Regions from separate parts of the Homo sapiens genome. Here region 2 is linked to region 1. A link means that fine-mapping ties the variant in region 1 to the expression of a gene that starts in the linked region. Tissue or cell type: tibial artery. Region 1 holds a variant in brackets; the other region holds the start of a gene. All regions are shown on one strand. Distances are from middle to middle.

Region 1 (8,106 bases):
ATGTTATCTTTGAGAAAGCCTAATATCTGTGGTTAATTAAAATATAGATGAAATATTAAACTCCTAAGAACTGAACTGAAATTGCTAAATAAGTAGGCCATTAGTTTACATTTAGAAATATTTTGTTTACTTAAATATTTCCATTCTGGTAAGGCACTGGGGCTCACGCCTGTAATCCCAGCACTCTGGGAGGCCAAGGTGGGTGGATCACTTGAGGTGAGGAGTTCGAGACCAGCCTGGCCAACATGGTGAAACCCCATCTCTACTAAAATACAAAAAAAAAAAAAATTTAGCTGGGGGTGGTGATGCAAGGTTATAATCCCAGCTACTGGGGAGGCTGAAGGAGGAGAATTGCTTGAACCCACGAGGCAGAGGCTGCAGTGAGCCAACATCATGCCACTGCACTCCAGACTGGGCGACAGAGCAAGACTCTGTCTCAAAAAATATATAAATAAATAATTCATTAATTTGAAAATTTTCCACTCTAATGGAAACTGAATTTATTAAAATCTGACTCAGGGCTTGGTGTGGTGCCTTATCTCTGTAATCCCAGCACTGTGAGAGGCCAAGGTGGGAGGATCACTTGAGCCCAGGAGTTCCAGACCAGCCAGGGGAACATGGTGAAACCCAGTGTCTCTAAAGAAAATTTTTTTAAAAATTAGCCACACAAGGTGGCCTGTGCCTGTAGTCCCAGCTGCTGGGGAGGCTGAGGTGGGAGGATTCCACTCTCACCCATTTCTTCTTTCATTTTCAGTTTCTCCAGTTAGTAACTGAAGATGTTCTTTGAGTAATTAAGTGAGTGAGAAAATTTTTAAGTGAGAAATCTATAAAAAGAACCATGTTAACATAAATATTTCAGTCCTTACAAGTTGGTATTGACTTTTCTCATTGGTAATCTGACTGATTTAATACTGCTCATTCCAATATCTGGTGATGTAATTCTGGTTATGAATCCTTGTATTAATAACACCTCCTGGGAGGTTTTTTTTCCCCAACATTACATTCAGAATATTAGAGCTGAAAATACCTTTTTTAAGGTTATCAGGAGGAGGGAGCTTATGTTTAATGTGGTGGATAAAACTTAACTGCTGGTTAATACAATTGTTATTCAGGTGAAATTCCCTAAACTTTTCACGTGCAAAGTTTTGTATGTATACAGACATTTGGGGAAAAGTTTTATCATCCCTAAAACCGGTTACTGTCCAGAAAATGATAAGAATCCCTGGGTTCCAAATCCTTCATAAGGTATTTATTCATTTATTTATTCAACACATTTACTCAATGCCTCCGCTCTGCTGCAACTACACTGACATTCTGCTTCTAATCTAACGAAAATAATGTGTTCGGTTTAGCAAAATAATACATAACACTTGATTCACCCTTTAATTAAGAGAACCACTGAAATTAATATGGTCTGATTACAAATTTGCTGAATCCTTAAACGTGTCAACATCTATATGCACATCTTCAATCTCAAGAAATATACTGGAGCACTTCACATATTTACTATGTGCTAAACCTGGCCAAATATAGTTTGTTTCCATTAAAATAAAGTTTTTTTTTTTGAGACGGAGTCTTGCTCTGTTGCCAAGGCCAAAATAAAGATTTTTTTAAGTAATATTTTTCTTTTTAAAAAAATATACTTTACCAACATGAGATATATAACACCCATTAGGATGGCGCTTCCTCAAAAATCAAAAATAGAATTACCATATGATCTAGCAATTCCACTTTTGGGTATATGCCCAAAAGCATTAAAGCGGGGTCTCGGCCGGGCGTGGTTGGCTCACACCTGTAATCCTAGCACTTTGGGAGGCAGAGGCGGGCAGATCACGAGGTCAGGAGATCGAGACCATCCTGGCTAACACGGTGAAACCCCGTCTCTACTAAAAATACAAAAAAATTAGCCGGACGTGGTGGCAGGCACCTGTAGTCCCAGCTACTCAGGAGGCTAAGGCAGGAGAATGGGGTGAACCCAGGAGGTGGAGCTTGCAGTGAGCCGAGATCGCGCTACTGCACTCCAGCCTGGGTGACAGAGCGAGACTCCGTCTCAAGAAAAAACAAAACAAAAAAGAATTAAAGCAGGGTCTCAAAGAGATATTCATACACCCAGGTTCATAGCAGCATTATTTACAATAGCCAAAAGGTAGAAGTAACCCAAACGCCCACCCATGGATGAATGAACAAAATGTGTTATATACATACAGTGGAATATTATTTATCCTTCAAAAGGAAGGAGGCCAGGCATGGAGGCTTATGCCTGTAATCCCAGCACTTTGGGAGGCTGAGGATGGAGGATCACTTGAGCTCAGGAGTCCAAGACCAACCTAAGCAACATGGCAAAACCCTGTTGGGCGTTTTGCCCAAAAAATACTAAAAATTAGCCAGGCAAGGTTGTATGTGCCTGTAGTACATACAACAAGCACCTGCCACCACACCTGGCTAATTTTTATATTTTTAGTAGAGACAGAGTTTCACCATGTTGGCCAGGCTGGTCTTGAACTCCTGACCTCAGGTGATCCACCCGCCTTAGCCTTCCAAAGGCTGTGGACACCTGTAGTCACAACTACTCGGGAGGCTGAGGCAGGAGAATTGCTTGAACCCAGGAGGCAGAGGTTGCAGTGAGGTGAGATGGCACCACTGCACTCCAGCCTGGGCAACAAGAGCGAAACTCTGTCTCAAAAAATAAATAAATAAATAAATAAATAATAAAAATGCCAATCTAACAAAGGTCTCCCAATATTTTGCCCATATTATTTTCCACTATTAACGATGTGGTGGGTACATTTTAGTTCATTTTATATCCTTGTCTTTTGACACTCAGTTCAGTAGTCGGTAATTATCAGATTTCAGTAATGCTGTAAAAAACAAGGTGTGGCCGGGCGCGGTGGCTCACACCTGTAATCCCAGCAATTTGAGAGGCCGAGATGGGCGGATCACGAGGTCAGGAGATCGAGACCATCCTGGCTAACACTGTGAAACCCCGTCTCTACTAAAAACGATACAAAAAAATCAGCCAGGCATGGTGGTGGGCACCTTTAGTCCCAGCTACTTGGGAGGCTGAGGCAGGAGAATGGCGTGAACCTGGCAGTCGGAGCTTGCAGTGAGCCGAGATCGCGCCACTGCATTCCAGCCTGGGCAACAGATGTGGTAGGCAAATTTTTATTTCCGGTGAGAAACGAATGGAATAATCTGAACTTTTATCAAGTCTTGAGTTATATCTTACATGACAACATGATTCATAAACTTACAATACAGTGTTTCACAAGGGTTTCCTAAGAATCCTAAAGCTCAACAAAATACATTCTTTGAAATAATCAAAATAACACAGAAAGAACAGTGACATTCTGGTTTAATTTGTATGTTTCATCTTTACCTATTACCACAGTACCAAATGATGGGTCAGATCAAGCTCTCGGTCAGAAGACAAGATACATTTAATTACAACCCCAAAAATACTTTTATAAGAGTCTTAACTAGACTGGGATTACATCTGTAATCCCAGCACTTTGGGAGGCCAGGGTGGGAGGATAGCTTGAGCCCAAGAGTCCAAGACCAGCCTGGGCAACATGGCAAGGCCCTGTTTCTACAAAGAAATAAAAATTAAAAAGTAGGCAGGCATGGTAGGGTACACCTGTGGTGCTAGCCACTCAGGAGGAGGCTGAGGCAGGAGGATCACTTGAGCCCTGAGGTCGAGACTGCAGTAAGCTGTGTTCACGCCACTGAATTCCAGCCTGGGTAACAGAACGAGATTCTTATCTTACACACACACACACACAGAAAAGGGTCTTAGCTATATTACTAGCTAAATATACAAATCAAGAGATATTCACATCTAAAAAAGAAAAAATAAATAAAAATAAAAAAGGATATGTACATGCAGGGAGAATACAGTCTTATTGTCAAAAATATTAAACATGTTTAGCAAGGACCTGGATCAAAGTATCAAGGCTCTAGTAGTTAGGTCTGCATACAGCAGAAAGTTTGGTTAATACCAAAATGTAGTTAATGTCATAGAAAAATGAAATGAAACTTAAAATGACCAAGAGCAATTAGAATCATTCATTGAAAGAGTATGAATTTAGAAATGGAAAAGTATAAAGAAGTATGATGCCGGGCACAGTGGCTCACACCTGTAATCCCAGCACTTTGGGAAACTGAGGCGGGCAGATCAGCAGAGGTTGGGAGTTTGAGACCAGCCTGACCAACATGGAGAAACCCCGTCTCTACTAAAAATACAAAATTAGCCAGGAGTGGTGGCACATGCCTGTAATCCCAGCTACTCAGGAAGCTGAGGCAGGAGAATCACTTGAACCTGGGAGGCGGAGGTTGCGGTGAGCCAAGATCGCGCCATTGCACTCTGGCCTGGGCAACAAGAGCGAAACTCCATCTCAAAAATAAATAAATAAGTATGATGAGGAACAATTAAAACCAAGAAACAACAAACAACACCACAGATAGAGGATGGCCTGTCACAAAAACGACAGAAAGGTGAACACAAAGTAGTCAATGATGTAGTACACCAATATAGCGGCTTTTTAAAAGTTAATTTTGTAGGCCAGGCATGGTGGCTCACGCCTGTAATCCCAGCACTTTGGGAGGCCAACGTGAGTGGATTGCTTGAGCTCAGGAGTTAGAGATCAGCCTGGGCAACATGGTGAAACCCCTTCTC[C/T]ACCAAAAATACAAAAAATAGCTGGGCATGGTAGCACACGCCTGTGGCCCCAGCTACTTGAGAGGCTGAAGTGGGAGGATCGCTGGAGCCCGGGAAGTCAAGGCAGCAGTGAGCCATGATCATGCCACAGCACTCCAGCCTGGGTGACAGAGGGAGACCCTGTCTCTAACTAACTAACTAAATAATTTTGCAGATCACTTTGTTGAAACAAACAACTACCTGATCCTCAGGTCCCCTTTTGCAACTGCCATTGCTGAATGGGAAAAGACTCCACAGGAAAATTAAATAGGCTGGATATGGTGGCTCTCACCTGTAATTCAAACACTTTGGGAGGCTTAGGCAAGAGGACAGCTTGATGCCAGGTGTTCAAGACAAATTTGGGCAACATAATGAGACCATATCTCTATTAAAAAGTTAAAAATTAGCCAGGCATGGTGGCATGCACCTGTAGTCCTAGCTACTCAGGAGGATGAGCCGGGAGGACTGCTACACTCCAGCCTGGGCAACGGTGAGAGACGCTATCTCAAAAACAAAAGCAAAAAAAGTCGTTGGCATCATTTATGCACATTTTTAAAAAGTTTCAAAACAGGAAACCAAAGAATAGGGGAAAAAACATAACAAAACAAAAAATTGTATCTATAAATAAATCAATGAAGTTTCTAGAGCAAGGGAAAAAAAATTCTCCCTCTTAGGTAATTCAGGAACTACTCTGAGACTTGACTACTAATTATTGCCTGACCATATGACTTGCACTTCTTACTCCACTATCCTCCCCTCTTACCTCTTTAATTATCTAGGTCCTATATAGCCATAAAGGCCAAATTCAAGTGCCAATTCCACTATGATGGTTTTGATGGCTTCACTACCTACACCAGCTCTTGTTACTTCTCTTCATTGTACAGACTGTAGATTCATTCATTTGGTTTCGTACATATATCTTATCATATTCCTCACTTTTTGTAAGCGTCTCCCCTTGAATCCTATGCTTTTTAAACTTCTTGAGGACAGGGGCAATTTCTTCCTTATTTTTGTCTAATTAGACCCATGAACACTGTAGATACTCAAGAAAGGTAATTAATTAGGTGGGAGGATCCTGCCAGTGCATCTTCTATTTCTAGGGGCCAGAATACGAGCACATGAACCTAACATGATCTAGACAAGATTTAGAGATGCAGTTGAAGATACTGACAAATATTGGAACAATCTACCACAAAGGTGATACTGAGTCACTATTTTTGCAGAGCTTTGTTACTAGTTTGCCTTAAATAATTCAGAGTTTGTCCTGAGGGTAGGGAGTGGATAACAGTGAATTTAATCTTTTAAATTTCCTTCAAGTTTTATGATCGTGACACGGGGGCAACAGGAGAAGAGAAAAAGTTTGGAAACCAAACACAAATGTTTTCAGATTCCTGCTAGGTATGTAAATGGCTAAGTCAATGCCGGTAGGGGTACTCATTCAGAAACACCCAGTGCCACTCTGTACGGGCCACTAAATTGGGCACTGCGGATATAAAGGTTCATTCCTCGCTTACTGTACCCACAGCTGCCAAGAAATGACCACTACAAAACAGTCGTTATAACTGAGGGAACAAAGCGCCAAAGCAGCAACAAAAAGGGGTTCTTGCTGCTTCGCGGGATAGGGGGCTGAGCAGCCTCACAAAGGCGACGTCCTCGCAGTCTGAAGAGGAGTGGGCAAGGCGGACGAGGGTGGGGCTCAAGCGTCCGTCCGGTAAAAGTGAGCTGGAAGAACCGAGGCCCAGCGTGAGGAGGAACCGCGAACTACTTGCAGAAGGGCGAACGTCTGCTGCTGAAGGTGGAGAGGGAGTACCAATGTACGAGGCTTTATAGAAATGGCCGTTTGGTAAAGGGCAGTGACTCTGGAGCTTTTTCTCTAGGGATCCCGCCCGTCCTCCCCGGTTGAGCCTCGGCCCCAACAGCCCAGTGCCTCACCCAAGTGCCCCGAGTCCTGCTTCCGCCTCCGCTGCAGCCTCTCCCGCAGAGAGTCCAGCTGCTTCTTGTGGGCCTGGATAGAGCTCCACGTGTCCGACATCCTAGTCTCCCAGCCCTGACACCTCTCGAATAAGGCGCGGCGGACTAGCACCTCCCAGCACTCGCTCCAGGATATAGCCAATTCTCACGCGGACACCCCGAAGGCTAACCGGAAAATGACCCCTGGAGCTGAGCAAGACAGAAAAGTCATTTCCGGTGTCGCGCTTTCTTGGAAGCTATAAAGAGCCACGTTAGGTGTTGGCAGAGCGGCCGGTATAGTCCTCATACCCGCTCTCTCATGCTTCCGGACACAGTGAGGCTGTGGTTGCCATGTTGGTGACTGGCAGAGCGGCCATGTTGCTTATAGACGCGCATGCGGCCATGTTGAATATTCGGAGAGGAGTCCTGAGAGTTGACTTGTGTTAAAGTAGCACTCGTAGAGAGCAACACCATATAGTACAGTTTTGGGGGTTTTTTTCTTTTTTTTTTTTTTGAGACGGAGTTTCACTCTGTCGCCCTGGCTGGAGTGCAATGGCGCGATCTCGGCTCACAGCAACCTCCACCTCCCGGGTTCAAGTGATTATCCTGCCGCAGCCTCCCGAGTAGCTGGTATTACAGGCGCCCGCCACCACGCCCGGCAGATTTTTTGTATTTTTAGTAGAGACGGGGTTTCACTGTGTTGGCCAGGCCAGTCTCGAACTCCTCACCTCGTGATCCGCCCTCCTTGGCCTCCCAAAGTGCTAGGATTACAGGCGTGAGCCACCACACCCGGCCATAGTACAGATTTTTAAGATGAAGGATCACTAGTTCCTTTTGACAGTTTGGTACTAACATACCTTTTCCACTGAAGGTGGTGTTGGTTTGTTTCCATGCGTTCATTTACAAAAAAATAAAAAACACAACGGTGGTCCCCAATCTGAGGTGAGGAGGGGGCGGTGGTGGGTGCGGGCATGCTTCTTTGTGTTGACGAGGCGTGGGGAAGTGGGGAGGGCTGATGAAGGAAAAATCCGAGAGGTCTTCAAATACGTGATCTCTCTCTTAGGCTAAATTTACAAAGTACGTGTAATCTATTAAAATCGGGTTCCGACACTAAGAGGGCTTTGAGGTCCTGGTTGCGTTGTGTTTTTTGTTATGAGAGCTACCTGCATGAGTGTGTTCAGTTTGTGAAATGTAATTGAGCTGAACATTTTGGTGTGCACTTTTCTGTATGTGTAGTAAACTTAAATACAAGGTTGGTGGTGGTGGTTTTTCCTACAATCCTTTCTTTCTTTCTTTTTTTGACACATTTTCTTTTTTTTTTTTTTTTGAGATGGAGTCTCACTCACTCTGTCACCCAGGCTGGAGTGCAATGGCGTGGTCTCAGCTCACTGCAACCTCCGCCTCCTGGGTTCAAGCGATTCTCCTGCCTCAGCCTCCCGAATAGCTGGGATTACAGGCGCGTGCCA
Region 2 (8,100 bases), 31 kb before region 1:
AAATACAAAAAACGTCCGGGAGTGGTGGCTCACACCTGTAATCCCGGCACTTTGGGAGGCTGAGGCGGGCGGATCACGAGGTCAGGAGATCGAGACCATGCTGGCTAACACGGTGAAACCCCCTCTCTACTAAAAATACAAAAAATTAGCCAGGCGTGGTGTCAGGCGCCTGTAGTCCCAGCTATTCGGGAGGCTGAGACAGGAGAATGGCACGAACCCGGGAGGCGGAGCTTGCAGTGAGCTGAGATCACGCCACTGCACTCCAGCCTGGGCAACAGAGTAAGACTCCGTCTCAGAAAAAAAATACAAAAAATACAAAAAACATTAGCCACGTGTGGTGGTGGGTGCCTGTAATCCCGGCTACTCAGGAGGCTGAGGCTGGAGAATTGCTTGAACCCAGGCGGTGGAGGTCGCGGTGAGCCAAGATTACGCCATTGCATTCCAGCCTGGGTGACAAGAGTGAATCTCTGTCTCAAAAAAAAGAATGCTCAGTGAAATTCTGCAATACTTAAAAATTGGAAAACAACCCAAATTTCTATCAGTAGGATGATGGTTACATAAATCATGCTACTGACATTCCATGACTACGCAGTGGTTAAAAGGAATGAGACAGATCTATATGTATTGATATGGAAAGGTCCCCACAACATAGAGATTGTTTAATATACAATCTAAGTCACACAACTAGGTCTACTCTGTCACGATTCTATACATGTAAACACTAATAAAAACAAAACTACTACCATATATTTCTATGTGTTTACATGTATGTATCTAAATGCATAGAAAAAGTCTGAAAGCATACACGTGGAATCATCAGTAATGATTTCCCTGCTAGAGTACCAACCAAGATGGGAAGGGAGAAAGAGTTTATGTATCAAAAGGGGACATTTACTTTCTATTCTATAAATTTATATTGTTTGATTTTATTTTTACTAGAATAAACTATTACTTGGATCGTTTACAACACAAAGATACAGCATCCAGAATTTGTAACTGTAACAGAATCAAAAACTTCTCTCTTTGATTTCACCTTTCCCCTACTTTATCCCCACCATTAGTTCCACCCTCATCGCCCCTTTCCTTTGCATCAGCTTTTCTTGTTATACTTGGATATTGGTCAGAGACTAAATTATTTTGTACTCTCACCGTATCCCAGATTTGCAGTTTGATTTGTTTTCCATCAATGTTGACCATACGAGCTCCAAACTCCACACCTGTCGGTAAAGACCGAGAGAAAGAATGTGATTCTCACGAACAGCAGCCACGTGGAGTGGGAGGTTCCTGCCTTTCCTCAATGTGTTATAACCATCCTTTGTCTGAACTCAATGCCACTAATTCCATTATTGCTGCCTATTTGCTCCAATTAATTTTGTGTTTCTTAAGGTTCTTCATTTCCCTTCTAGAATTAAAAAATTGTGCTCAATGACCTCAGGAATGTAACCAAAAAGCAGATATGGGAAAATAAAACCAATTAAGAAGTCAAATTTAAAAAGGTGAATACTTTTTTAGCAATGTTAGGTTAATGCTTAAATTTGGTTAGGTAACATTTAGTTTTGTAACTTTTCCAAAAAACTAAAAATTTTGGAAATATTTCCTGACACTTTCTCAGTCACTCTTTAGTCTCTACTTAAAACAATATTTATTTTTTTGCAATTCCAGATGTTTTTCTTTAAGAAAAGAGCCTAAGAAATAGGTTCTCAGAAACAATACTTTTTTTTTTTTTTTTTTGAGATGGAGTCTCGCTCCGTCACCCAGGCTGGAGTGCAGTGGTGCGATCTCAGCTCACTGCAGCCTCCACCTCCTGAGTTCAAGTGATTCTCCTGCCTCAGCCTCCCAAGTAAGTACCTTACAGGCACACGCCACAACGCCCACCTAATTTTTTTAACAATACATTTTACATTTCCAATAATTGCCAGAGGCACAATTAAGCATTGTTGCCTTGTTAAGCATTGTATCATTAGCCCCTATCGCAAAGTGAGAATTCGCTCAATATTCCCTTTAAAATACCTTTTAGTTGATACTGCCAAATCCTTTTCTAACCCCATCAATTATTTGACTCTAAATAAATCCGTTAGGAACAGTGGTAGCTTCAGGTTTCCATACAGGTGGGACTTGGAAGTAGCAATATGGTAAGAATGGGGATGTAGGGGTTTATTTAGAAACTGCATTTGCATGGCAAGAAAGCTAGTTTCATATATGTTGTTTATTTGGACTGGGGTTACGGAGATAACGAAGAGGGGGTAGTTAAAAGCCTCTTCAGGCCATGCCTTATCACAAACGTGTGGGAAAGGTTAATATTTTCCAGGATCGCCAGTGCGTTTGAGGAACTGTTAACACACTCTTTCATTTAAAAGGAAAGTTTTTAGTTTTATTTGCCTATTAATTCTAAGGCAGGGATGACTCCTCAATTTGCTTCTTCACCAATATAAAAAATGTCCATGTATTGGTGTTTACTTTTTAAAAGTAAGGCTGGTATTAATTTACCTCAAAGCACAGATGAGTTCATAAATAAGCAGTTATGCTTTCGTGGGATTTTCCATAAACATACAAATTGTATTTGAAAAAAAATTATATGACGAGTCTATACCTCACACTCTAAAAAGTTACCTTTCAATTATATACTCTCCCTTACACTACTCCCCACATATCAACGTTTCATTGGTCACTTCATTAACATAAGTTTGGACTAGTTTAAAGTAGTGAGGGGTAACTTTTTACTTCGAACACTGAAGGCTGCTAACTTTCCACTTTAGCAATTTAGCTAGTCAGGTTTTATCATCTGTTCTGGAACAAGTAGATGCACTTACCTATTGTGAGGTCGTGGACAGGCTGGAACCGCTTATCTGTAAACTGCAGGAGGAGACATGACTTCCCCACACCTGAAAGAGAAAGCACACTCCCGGAATCACGCAGCCCTGGAACACCTTCCAGAGTATGGACTTCCCGGACCAGAGAAGGGGGGCTCCCGAGCCCCGCCCCCGGCCGCCCCGAACCGCCCCGCCCGTCTCGAATCGCCCAGCCCACAAAGTGAGCCCCGCCCCCGCCACCCAATTTGGGAGCTTCGAATGCCCGCCCGAGCCTTGAAGGCGAACCACCTGAGGGTTACCTGTGTCTCCGATGATGATATACTTGAAGAGATAAGCATAAGTCATGGTGTCGCGTCCTCTGGGTTCCGGGTCCGCCCGACTTCTATAGCCACTTACCTCCGACCTCTCTAGCCACTCAATCTACCGATCTTCTTCTTCTCCCCCTTCCCCCCGCTCCCCCGCCCCTCCGGCTCCTCTAGCCCAGATCACGTCTCTATTGCACTCCCCGGAATCATCCTTAGGTCGGGAGTACCCTACGCCACCTCCAGGGACGCTTCTAGCACTTCTACATGCCCTTATCCCTCCAAACTCCAGGGGGCGATAGCCCAGCGCCTGACTCTCTGCAGCCCCACGGCGCTCCTTCCAATCAGCAGAGAGAACACACGTCCTTGCGGAAGTGACGGCAGTTCCGAGTCCAGTGGGGGCGGTGGGAGCGATGAGGGTCTGAGACGGTGGGAGCGGTTGTGTGAAGATGGAGGTAGGAACCTGATAGCTAAGAAGGCTGGCGAGAGAACGCGGCCGACCGGGTTGAAGCAGGGACGGGAAGCCGGGCGGAGAGGCGACTGACGGGAGAGGAGAGAGAGCGGGGTTTGGGGAGTGTTGTCAGAATGTCAGGGTCAAAAGCCATCGCTCCAAGCTGACTCCCTGCTCCCCCTAACTTATCCCCGCGACTTTCTTTTGGTTTCCAGTTTCCCGGAGGAAATGACAATTACCTGACGATCACAGGGCCTTCGCACCCCTTCCTGTCAGGGGCCGAGGTGAGCCAGAGCTGCCGACGCCGCGGGGGTAGGGCCTGAGGCAGCGGTGGGGTAGGGTAGTGGGGAGGAGAGCACGGACTCCGGGGACGGGGGCTGGGAACCAAGGGCCGCAATTGGTGTTTAGAGAAAAGTGGCGGTTGCTTCTAGAGCCTGTGGGGACTATCTGGGGAAGTCTTGGGAAGTTGCTGTCATCAGAAAGCAAGGTATTGGAAAGAGATAACCTGTTTAAAGAGAAAAGGGATTCTGGATTAGAAGACAGAGTGGAATTGTCTCCTTTCTCTGGGGAGAAATAGCTACAGTAATCTTAGGGGATCGCAGTGGAAAGAAAATGTTTCAGCAGCTGAAGAAATTGGGGTTGAGGGGAGGAGCTTATTGGTTTTCTTTTGTTTTGAGACAGAGTCTCGCTTTATCGCCCAGGTTGAAGTGCAGTGGTGCGATCTCGGCTCACTGCAACCTCTGTCTCCTGGGTTCAAGCGATTCTCCTGCCTCAGCCTCCCGAGTAGCTGGGATTACAGGCGTGCGCCACCACGCTCGGCTAATTTTTGTATATTTAGTAGAGATGGCAGTTTCACCATATTGGCCAGGCTGGTTTCGAACTCCTGACCTCAGGTGATCCACCCACCTCGGCCTCCCGGAGTGCTGGGATTACAGGCCTGAGCCATTGCGCCCGGCCTAAATTTCCTACTTTGATAAAAAATTTGTGGTTACCTTTACCTACATGGTGTCAGCTTGTTTTGCTAATGTCAGGAGGAAAGGAAATAGCTGCTAGAGAATATAAAAGAGTTGAGTAGGACATGTGTTTCAATTTGCCAGTGACTCAGACGTTGGGCACATTACTTCATCTTTGTATGTCACAGTTTCCCCAGCTGTCAAACAGCTGTAATTATAGTTTCTTATGCTGTTTTAAAGTAGAAGTAAAGGTTATGATGAAACCCTGAAGTGTTCGTTAAAAAAGTTTGGTTGAAATATTGTCATAATATAGATATGTATCACTTGTTTGGGAGAGGCAAAAGAGAATGGTGGAACAGACAAAAATTTCTGTCTTTGAGAAACTGAAGTCTTGAACCATCTGCCATTTTTTGAGGACTTTTATATTTATTTTCAAAAGTGGTGTGGACCATTTGCATCAGTTTTTTTTACCAAGAATTGTCAGTGGCTGTTGCATGGGCTTATCCTATAATCCTAACGTTTTCATGGATGAAAATGGGGTTGACAAGGGCCAGTTGCTAGTTTAACTTTTTTTTTCTTTCTTTTTTTTTTTGAGACAGTCTCCCTGTAGCCCAGGCTGGAGTGCAGTAGCACGATCTTGGCTCACTGCAGCCTCCACCTCCTGGGCTCAAGTGATTCTCCTGCCTCAACCTCCCAAGTAGCTGGGAATACAGGTGTGCGCCACCACACCCAGCTAATTTTTTTTTTTTTTTTGAATTTTTGTAGAGACGGGGTTTCACCCTGTTACCCAGGCTCTTTAACTCCTGGCCTCAAGTGATCTGCCCGCCTCAGCCTCCTAAAGTGCTAGGATTACAGGCATGAGCCAATGTGCCCAGTGCCAGTTTAACTTTTTTGTTGCTTTTATTTATTATTCTCATAAGCAGGATAAGTGTGAATCTAGTATGCAGCAAACTTTGAAATGATATAAAACCTAAATCTGGGCCCAGCACAGTAGCTCGTGCCAGTAATCCCAACTGTTTGGGAGGCTGAGGCAGGAGAATTGCATGAGCCCAAGAGTTCTAGACCAGCTTGGGCAACGTGATCAAACTCTGTCTCTATAAAAGATAATAATAATTAATTTTAAAAAAACAGGTGAGGCGGGGTGCGGTGGCTCATGCCTGTAATCCCAGCACTTTGGGAGGCCAAGGAGGGCGGATCACGAGGTCAGGAGTTCGAGACCAGCCTGACCAACATGTGAAACCCCATCTCTACTAAAAATACAAAAATTAGCCGGGTGTGGTGGTGCGCGCCTGTAATCCCAGATACTCAGGAGGCTGAGGCAGGAGAATCGCTTGAACCTGGGAGGCAGAGGTTGCAGTGAGCCGAGATTGCGCCATTGTACTCCAGCCTAGGTGAACGAGTGAGACTCCATCTCAAACAAACAAACAAAAACAGCTAAAATCTGCTTGGTGCTTTGCACTCTTAGTTGCCATTTTCTTCTAAGTGAGATCTTCATTTTTAAATTTCATTATTTGAGTGTTGCAAATCTCACATTGGACTTACCTGCATGAAATTCCCAATTTCTCCTCAATCAGGTCTCCACAGTTTAAATTTTGTTATTTAGAGTGTTATAAATTTTACGTTGGCCTCGTTCATGAGAAAGTGCATTTTAAAATTAAATACAAGTAGCTTTCAAGTTTACCCACTGTTCTTAATTCTCTACCCCATTTATGAAGTTGAACAATCAAGAGGTAGCCACATTTAAAAAAGTGGTTCCTTTTTGCTTTTGCTTTTGTTTTTAATAGAGACAGGATCTCACCATGTTGTCCAGGCTGGTCTCAAATTCCTAGGCTCAAGCGATCCTCCCACCTTGGCCTCCCAAAGTACTAGTATTGTAGGTGTGAGCCACCATGCCAGGACAGAAGTGGTTCCTTTTCACATCAAGAAACTTCCCATGAAGAATCATGGTGTATAGTGAAGAAAAGTAAATTTAAAGTATTAACAAGTAATATTATAATAAAAAAGAAAGAAACTTTCCAGGTTTGAATCTGTCCTTTGTTTTTGTTTTTGTGACTTAAGAAATCTTATTTTATTTTGCCAAGAAACTGATAGCTAAGTTTTAGGCTCAATTTCAGTAGCTTCCTTTGCCTAAGGCTCCTGTCATTGTTAACAGTTCTCCATTTTCTCATTACAACTTCTACACCTTCCCTTTCCCTTGGTAGCGGTGGTAATGGTTGTTTATAACTTTTATTTTAATGGGGTTATGGTTTTACTGTGAGCCATTCCAAATATATCTTAGAAGTAGGTAAAGGTAATATTAAAAAAAAGTTTTTTTTTACAAGAGAGGAAATTTTTAGACTTTGCCGACCCTCCCCCAAAAAAGTAGTTGCCCATAAAAAGTTCTAACCATTAAAAAAAATGAATAATTGGACTCCACTGTAATTAGGAACTTCCTTTCATCAAAAAACATGATTAACAAATAGGCATTCCACAGACTGGGAGAAGATATTTACAATACATATATCTAACTCATATTCAGAATATATCAAGTACTTCTGCAGAGTAAAAGAAAGAATCCAGTTTAAAAGGAAGCAAAGGCCAGGCGTGGTGGCTCATGCCTGTAATCCCAGCACTTTGGGAGGCTGAGGCGAGTGGATCACCTGAGGTCGGGAGTTCAAGACCAGCCTGAGCAACATGGAGAAACCCCTTCTCTACTAAAAATACAAAATTAGCCGGGTGTGGCAGCGCATGCCTGTAATCCCAGCTACTCAGGAGGCAGAGGCAGGAGAATCGCTTGAACCTGGGAGGTGGAAGTTGTGGTGAGCTGAGATTGTACCATTGCACTCCAGCCTGGGCAACAAGAGAGAAACTCCGTCTCAAAAAAATAAAATAAAAGGAGGCAAAAGATTTGAACAGTCACTTCACAAAAGAAGACGTCCAAATTGCCAGTGAGAGTTGGCAAGGATGTGGATAACTTTTTTTTTGAGACAGAGTCTTGCTCTGTCACCCAGGCTGGAGTGCAGTGGTGCGGTCTCGACTCACTGCAACCTCCACCTCTCACGTTCAAGCAACTCTCGTGCATCAACCTTCTGAGTAGCTGGGATTACAGGCATGTGCCACCACACCTGGCTAATTTTTGTATTTTTGGTAGAGACCGGTTTTCACCATGTTGGCCAAGTTGGTCTCAAACTCCTGACCTCAAGTGATCCACCTGCCTCAACCTCCCAAAGTGCTGGGATTATAGCTGTGAGCCACCTTGCCCAGTGGATGTGGATAACTTAATTATTGCTAGTGAGAGTGTAAGTTAATTGAGCCACTGGAAAACTAGCAGTACCTACTAAAGATAAACATGCCCCCCTAACCTATGACCAGGTAAATTCCACTCCATGATATGTACACAACAGAAATGATTGCATATGTTCACCAAAAACATGTTCACAACAACTTTATTCTTACTAGCTTAACCCTGAAAACAACTCATGTCTATCAACAGAAAAAAATGGTGTATTTGTGAAAAGGAATACTACACAGATATAAAAAATTAAATTATAAATGCAATTGGATAATCTAAACAATATTTTGTTGAGTAGAAAAAGACAGACATA

Which allele goes with the higher level. Alleles are on the strand shown, and positions count from the first base shown. SD is a standard deviation of normalised expression in the study named.
With allele T in place of C in region 1, the expression in tibial artery of the gene that starts at base 3,478 in region 2 is higher (small effect, 0.32 SD a copy in GTEx).

What was found. PIP is the estimated chance that this variant, and not a neighbour inherited with it, causes the effect.
Region 2: TOX4 starts here. The variant in region 1 is fine-mapped to the expression of TOX4 in tibial artery (GTEx, PIP 0.97). The same link has a PIP of 0.9 or more in nasal epithelium.

The regions. Positions count from the first base shown.
Region 1 is chr14:21,504,502-21,512,607 of GRCh38, forward strand. It overlaps METTL3 (methyltransferase 3, N6-adenosine-methyltransferase complex catalytic subunit), which reads right to left and starts at 6,839. Exons shown (of 11, transcript NM_019852.5): 1 at 6,623-6,839. The coding sequence starts at 6,722. RefSeq lists an enhancer at 6,882-7,121. The variant C/T (reference allele first, on the strand shown) is at 4,673.
Region 2 is chr14:21,473,718-21,481,817 of GRCh38, forward strand. TOX4 (TOX high mobility group box family member 4) reads left to right here and starts at 3,478. Exons shown (of 9, transcript NM_014828.4): 1 at 3,478-3,567; 2 at 3,779-3,847. The coding sequence starts at 3,562. It overlaps RAB2B (RAB2B, member RAS oncogene family), which reads right to left and starts at 3,242. Exons shown (of 8, transcript NM_032846.4): 1 at 3,110-3,242; 2 at 2,811-2,882; 3 at 1,150-1,217. The coding sequence starts at 3,155. RefSeq lists enhancers at 2,659-2,778, 3,359-3,428.